Linked DNA regions of Homo sapiens. The protein of the gene in region 1 interacts with the protein of each later gene in a pairwise test. Each region holds a gene or a part of one and is shown in the gene's direction. Other genes may lie near its edges.

Region 1 (3,749 bases):
AGAATATCTGACTCCTTAAAATACACGCGGTGATAGGTGACTACGGGAGCTCCAGCTCACCGTGGATTTAGCAAAATACCAAGTGATGACAAGAAGTTGCTTTTAAATGACCCATCTTGTATTTCATCGTCAATAAAACCACACTTAGTTACCCAAAGACTGAGAAGGGAAAAATTCTATGTAATTATTTGATCATCTTTTTTTGTGGAGAGAAAAAAAACTGACAAAACAATGAGCTCTGGAATAGAATACAGTAGAGGCATCATGCTCAAAGAGAGTAGCAGATGTGGCCAGGGAAAGGTCACATGTAGAAAAGGGATACACAAGTGATGGCGAGGTGTATCGAGGAATAATTAACAGTTGAATAAAAATGCATTAATCAGAATGTCAAGAGTTCAAACTAGAAAGATTTTGAATTTTAAATGCATTATAAATAAAATCCACCTCTCTCCAAATAAAGCCCTCTGTAGAATTTTGCTTTAGCTCTTGTTTCTCTCACCAGAATAGAGAAGCGAGTATCACCTTTGGAGGATATACTCTACCATTCTCTGAAACTGTTTTTTTGCATTCAGCTACCTCGCTATTATAATCAGCTGAGAAACACCATAGCCTTTCACTAACACAGGTCAAAGATTTCTCCCAGGATCAACAAAGCTAGATTCAAAATTGCTCCTTTGAACACATGCAATTTGTGTGCATCAGTTTCGATCGCTGGGGTTCTTGAGGAGACTAACAAATTGCAAAGTGTACTTTCAGAGGAAGGGCCTAACCATCCTGGGGGGTCCTAGAATTGGGTCCTTTCACAGGCAGATCTGGAGAAGATAGGAGAGGGCAGGAAAGGAAAGTGAAGGATATGAACACTATGTGTTCAGTGTGCAAAGGCCTGCTGGCATTTTGCCTATGGGAATTCTGAAGTCTGGGCACATAAGGTTCAGCTGCAGTTGCAGTTTTCAACAGTCGTCCTTATTTTTATAAACATTGTTATGATTATTCAGACACGGAACTTGTGATTACACTATTTGCTCCTGTTCTGAACTTGAGGGAGTCCACTTAAGCTAACAAGTAGGTTTTTGAGGACATGTGTGGCAAATGCTTACCCAGTGAAGGGATTAAGGGGCTCAGTAAGCACTTGTCCATTGGCACAATGGCTGCCAATCTAATTCTATTGATTCCTCTAAATGTTTCTGGAGTTCAGAAATCTATTCAATCCAAGGGCACTTTACCTGGGGTCCTGGGAGCCAAATGTTAACGTAGTTCTTAACCTTCCTAAGCCTCTTAACCTTCTGGGTACAACCTCTATATTTGTCTTCTGGCTAAAATCATTTCCCCACCCCCAGCCCAGTCCTTTGGACTCTCCCAGGCCAATTCCTGGCAAGATCTTTGTCGAACTGTATTTGCAAACCAGGGTCTGGGGCACGGTGGCAGTTCCTTCGTCTGCTGTTCCCTTAATTTCGTCTGGTTTCACTGGCTCCAGGACAGCACACGGTCTAGAGTGGGAAGAGTGAGGCATTCACCTTGGTGAAAAACAACTCAGTAATTAAGACAAATGATTTTTCATGTACTATTTTAAAAAAATCAGAAGCAATGCAAAAATCCATGATGAACAAATGATCAACATTTGAAATACAGACAGGATCCCAACCTGCACTTGCATGACCTTGTCTCGCTTGCCTCACCCTAAACCCAGCCTTGACACTCCAATTAAACTTTATTTACAAAACAAGGGGGCCGGCCAGTAGGATGTAGTTTGCCCATACGACTTTTTTAAAGTATCGCATTGACTACTGTTTATCTCGATGACTGAAGGGTTCTTTTGGCATCCCTGTAGCAAATGCGTCTCACCCTAGTCCTGGTCCTGCTCCAAGGGTTTTTGTCCAGGCACATCGTGACCTCACCCTTCCTCCCCTCTCCGAGGCCTCTCTCAGGGTCCAGCGTTCAAGTCCCGGGTGTTCTCTGGACCCGCCCCTTCCTCTCGCCGGGTCAGGTGCCGAGGGCGAGCACGGGCGGCGCGGAGAGCAGTCCCGGCCCGCCCTCCACGACTCCTCCTCCTGCGAGCTGGGCCACTCAGCGGCTCTGCCGCCCAGCGCGCCGGGGCCCAGACCCCGCCCCGGCCCCGCCTCCGACGCCTGCCGCTCCAGCTCCGGCTCCCCCTATATAAATCGGCCATTTGCTTCGCTCCGCCCCGCAGCGCCGGAGTCAAAGCCGGTTCCCGGCCCAGTCCCGTCCTGCAGCAGTCTGCCTCCTCTTTCAACATGACAGATGCCGCTGTGTCCTTCGCCAAGGACTTCCTGGCAGGTGGAGTGGCCGCAGCCATCTCCAAGACGGCGGTAGCGCCCATCGAGCGGGTCAAGCTGCTGCTGCAGGTACGTCCTGGGATCCAGGAGCCCAACCAGGAAGTGGGGGGAAGGGTCGCACAGAAGGCGGGCGCCCGAGGGGTGGCGGGGAGCGAACTCTAAAGACATGGCCAGGGAAGCGGCTTAGGAGAGGCCAGAGCGGGGCGCAGAGGCAGAACAGAAGTCAAACTGGTGGGAGGCGCCTTTAGTGACCTGAAGTAGTGAGTCTAGGAAGGGGCCGGGGGCAGAGGGCAGGACCAGGCTCTCGGCATCTCCGAGGCGGCGGACTCGGATGGAGCAGTTTCTGAGTGACGGCCTCCCCGGGCCTGGGCGTCAAGGGCGAAGGCCGAAAGCCGGCGTTAGAAAGAGGAACGCCAGTTCTTACCGAAGACCTCAAGGTCGCGGCAAGGAGATAACTGCCCGGGGGAGGCCATGCGCCCGGGTCCAGCGGCCTCCCAGCCCGCGGACGCGCTCAAACCTCGCCGGGCCGGAAGCCGGCGCCGGGAAGCGCGTGTGCCTTTTACGTCCGCCCCCGCGCAGCCGCGGCCGCTGCCGCCGCGTCTCCGCCTGCCTCCCTGCGCCGCGCGCTCTCCAGTGCCGGCTCTAGAGGGCGCTCCTGGGCTAGCGTGTAGGGCTGGCGGCGGCGGCGCTCGGGTCACCTCTGGGAGCGGAGTGGGGGCGGAGCGAGACGGAAGCAGCTCAGGAGACTTGAGGCGTAGGCTGCGGTCCCCAAGGTGACCGCGCCCTATGTGGGACTCGCCCTAATGCCTCTGAACCTGGGTTTGAGGTAATGACCTTTCTCCTAGGTCTGAAGGTCACGGGTCCGCTGGAGGATGCCCCCTCTCCACTCAGAGGGGTGGAGGCTTAATGCTACTGGTGCAGATCACCTCTTCCCCTGTGACAGCCTCAGAGGGTTGGGAGGGTCCAGCCAGTATGATATACGAAGACTAGATTTGAGAGAGGGGAGCCTACCTTAAAGGGCATTGATCGAGATGGCATAAGCTCTTCTCTTTCCCTTCCCCATGGTTATAACTGTCCCTGTTGGCTTCCTTCCTGTCTGTTAGGTGCAGCATGCCAGCAAGCAGATCACTGCAGATAAGCAATACAAAGGCATTATAGACTGCGTGGTCCGTATTCCCAAGGAGCAGGGAGTTCTGTCCTTCTGGCGCGGTAACCTGGCCAATGTCATCAGATACTTCCCCACCCAGGCTCTTAACTTCGCCTTCAAAGATAAATACAAGCAGATCTTCCTGGGTGGTGTGGACAAGAGAACCCAGTTTTGGCTCTACTTTGCAGGGAATCTGGCATCGGGTGGTGCCGCAGGGGCCACATCCCTGTGTTTTGTGTACCCTCTTGATTTTGCCCGTACCCGTCTAGCAGCTGATGTGGGTAAAGCTGGAGCTGAAAGGGAATTCC
Region 2 (3,749 bases), on another chromosome or scaffold:
TGCCAAAACCCTGTCACTACAAAAAAAAAAAAAAAAAAATACAAAAATTGGCCACGTTTGGTGGCAGCATGCCTTTAGTCCCAGCTACCTGGGAGGCTGAGGTGGGATCACCTGAGCCCAGGAGATGGAGGTTGTAGTGAGCTAAAATCATGCCACTGCACTCCAACCTCAGATACAATGAGACTCTGTCTCAAAAAAAAAAAAAAAAAAAAAAAGCCAGGCGCAGTGGCTCATGCCTGTAATCCCAGCACTTTGGGAGGCCGAGGCAGGTGGATCACGAGGTCAGGAGATCGAGACCATCCTGGCCAACATGGTGAAACCCTGTCTCTACTAAAATACAAAAAATTAGCCAGACGTGGTGGTGCATGCCTGTAGTCCCAGCTACTCGGAATTGCTTGAACCCAGGAGGCAGAGATTGCAGTGAGCCGAGATCACAGCACTGCACTCCAGCCTGGCGACAGAGCGAGACTCCGTCTAAACAAACAAACAAACAAACAAACATAAAGAGACATAGGAGGTTTTTATGCTGAGGAATGCCCTAATGTCACAACCTCATGTCCACTGTGTGGAGTTGGAGTGGGAGGGTGAGACGAGAGGCAGGGGAGTCAGAAGGTGGATTTTGATTCTTGGACATTTAAACATGTTCAAGTTCTCCAGCTCTCACCACATGCCTGGGTCCTCCCTACCATGATTCTTTTCCTCTGAGACCCGGGTATTCTTCCTCCTAAGAACCTGGGTTTCCATCTCCTAAGAATTCTTGGTTGGTTTTGTCTTTCCTGTGTCTACCAGCGAGGATTCTGAAGGCCCCCCAGCTGAAGAGGGGCCTGGCCGCATCAGGAGGGCATTCTTTGTTTCACAAAGGCCAGAGCCGTGGTTTACAACAGGGTGGTTTTGTCTACCAGGGGACATCTGGCGATGTCTGGAGACATTCTTGGTTGTTATAGTTGGGGGTTGGGGGTGCTACTGGCAGCTGTTGGGAAGAGGCCAGGAGCTTACCACCCCAGAGTGCAGGGACAGCCGTCCCCACCCCCAGCAATAGACTGAGAAACCCTGGGCTGGAGGGATGGAGAAACTTACAGGCACAGGGACAGGATTTGATGGTGCTTCCATGGGAAACCTTCTATTTCCTTGTGAACTAAGGGGCCATTGTTCTCTGCTGGGAGTAGGATGCAGAGGGCCATGGGAGAGGAGGTTTAAAGAGAACACAGAGGTTTGAAATTGCTGCCCTGGGACTAGAAAGAGCTACTTGGAAAATGTGGATGGTTGTCAGGAGGGGCAAGCCATGTTGGTGTTGGAGAGGCAGAGGGGTATTTTGCCTATCTGCAGTGTAGCCTGGGGGTTAGGAGCCCAGAGCAGGATTTGTTTTGAGTTCAAATCTCAGCTTCCAGTTTACTAGCTCAGGGCAGAGAGGAGTGTCTGGGGCAAGTTACTTAACCTTTGTCGTCAGGCTTCTTATCTTTCAAAAGAGGATAAGAAGTGCCTTCCTCATAGGGTCACCATGATGGTTAAAGGAGTGGAAATTCCTAAGGAGCTGCAGTGAGTCCTAAGCCACGCTAGTTATGGCTGCCTTCGTTGGCAGTAATCGTGACCCAGCATTGTTAGCAGCCCCCATGCAGGAGATCTTAGATTGTCGGGGGTCTGGACTTTCTGGTGGTTGGGACAGAGGACAGTGGTTGAAGGGATGGATGACAGGAATGGGCGATGGGGTCGAGGCGGATAGGGAAGAAGAATACCCAGGTCTCAGAGGCGAAGAATCATGGTAGGGAGGACCCAGGCATGTGGTGAGAGCCGGAGAATGAATCGAGGAGTCAGAGATCGAGCTGTTGGTGGAGGCACGTCTGGAGTCCCCGCAGCAGGGGCGCTCAGAGCAGGTGGAGTCCTGCAGGCTGACAGCACGCACGCACATGCGGAAGGCTGAGAGCCGTTGTGGGGGTGGGCTCAGGTGACACCACTCCAACCCTAATTCCACTCCACCCCAGGGCCTGTGGGATGGGGAGTCAGCAGCTCCCACCCCTCTGGCTCCTGGAGAAGCAGGATTGTTGAGGCACACCTAGGTTTCAATTCAGTAGTTGCAGTCAGAACCCGGTGGCAAGAGGACTTTGTCCACAGGAACAGGGCTCCAAGGGGCACAAGAGGGATGTAGCCAGGGGAGAAGCACCATGAAGCAGCACCAGGAGTGGAGCGAGGATGAGGGGCCTCCAGTTTTGGGGTCAGGATCGGGGCATGAGACCCTGGGCAGAGCTGAGGGCAAGGTTCCAGAAGATTCAGAAACTTAAAAAAAAAAACAACTGAATTATAGCAACATTCAATAAAGTGCATAGATCTTAAATTATGCTCAGTGAATTTTTAAAAGTATACTAGGCCAGGCATGGTGGCTCACTCCTGTAATCCCAGCACTTTGGGAGGCTGAGGCCGGCCGATCACTTGAGGTCAGGAGTCTGAGACTAGCCTGGCCAACGTGGTGAAACCCCGTCTCTACTAAAAACACAAAAAATTAGCCGGGTGTGGTGGTGCACACCTGTAGTCCCAGCTACTTGGGAGGCTGAGGCAGAAGAATCGCTTGAACCCAAGAAGTGGAGGTTGCAGTGAGCCCAGATCGCACCATTGTACTCTAGCCTGGGCAACAGAGTGAGACTCAGTCTCAGAAAAAAAAAAAAAAATGTATACCAGGGCCAAGATTAGTGACCTACTTAGGAGGCACCAGCTTCGCTGGAGGGTCAGCCCAGCCTTTGGTGACCATGTCCTGCAGGTGTGCAGGTCCCAGCCCCCCAGGTCCCAGGATTTTCACACCGGTAGCAGCTTCCCTTATCCCTACCAAAGCCACAGTCTGGACTAGGACAGTCCCTTCATGGTCTGCCGCCATAAGGGATGGGGTCTATGGCCTGGATTTACAGGGAAGAGGGGATCTACAGTGCTTGGGGCCCCATGTCAGCTGGAAGCAGTCCCTGAGAGCCCGTCCACCAGCAGCTGCTCTGCTCCTGCCTTGGTCTCTCCTCTCATCCCCCGTGGAAGGATTGCTGGGGTTTCCCTGACCTCCGAGATGACCGGTTATTGGAAGCTGATTCCTGTTCCACAAGCCGTGCCAAATCCAACACAATCCCTGGGGGTTGCTGCCCAGCTTAGCAGGTTCAAAGCCGTGTCCTTCCTGCTCCTCTAATTCTGCATACCAGTATGTCCTGAGAACTGTGTCCTCCTCCACAGAAGGGCTCTGTGTGCATGTGGCTGCTAGTGGCACTTGCTCTCACACCTCACTGATGTGGACAGGTTGAAGTAACGGAGGGAAAGTCTGATTTATGAGCTGTTTTTAAAGAAATGCAGTTCTATGAGTTTAAAGAACATAGAGGTTTGGGGAAAATCTTTAATAAATAGCTAATTATTTTAGTTAGAATATTAATGATTCAAATCATAAAGTAAAAATAAGGCATTTCAAATGCAGTTTGGCCTTAGACTTTTTATTTTATTTATTTATTTATTTTTGTTATTATTTTCTTTGAGATGGAGTCTCGCTCCGTCGCCCAGACTGGAGTGCAGTGGCACGATCTCGGCTCACTCCAACCTCTGCCTCCCAGGTTCAAGCCATTCTCCTGCCTCAGCCTCCCGAGTAGCTGGGATTACAGGCATGTGCCACCATGTCCAGCTAATTTTTGTATTTTTGGTAGAGACGAGGTTTCACCTTGTTGGCCAGGCTGGTCTTTAACTCCTGACCTCAAGTGATCCGCCCACCTCAGCCTCCCAAAGTGTTGGATTAT

The links. The genes of interacting proteins can lie anywhere in the genome.
Region 2: the proteins of SLC25A5 (region 1) and ADCK2 interact in binary tests that used the Homo sapiens proteins (3 or more experiments, as listed by UniProt).

The regions. Positions count from the first base shown.
Region 1 is NC_000023.11:119,466,264-119,470,012, forward strand, and holds the start of SLC25A5 (ADP/ATP translocase 2), read left to right. Parts: upstream 1-2,180; 5' UTR 2,181-2,252; coding exon 2,253-2,363; exon of another isoform or gene 2,364-2,857; intron 2,858-3,397; coding exon 3,398-3,749.
Region 2 is NC_000007.14:140,682,807-140,686,555, forward strand, and holds part of ADCK2 (uncharacterized aarF domain-containing protein kinase 2), read left to right. Parts: intron 1-3,749. UniProt on the Homo sapiens protein: The function of this protein is not yet clear. It is not known if it has protein kinase activity and what type of substrate it would phosphorylate (Ser, Thr or Tyr).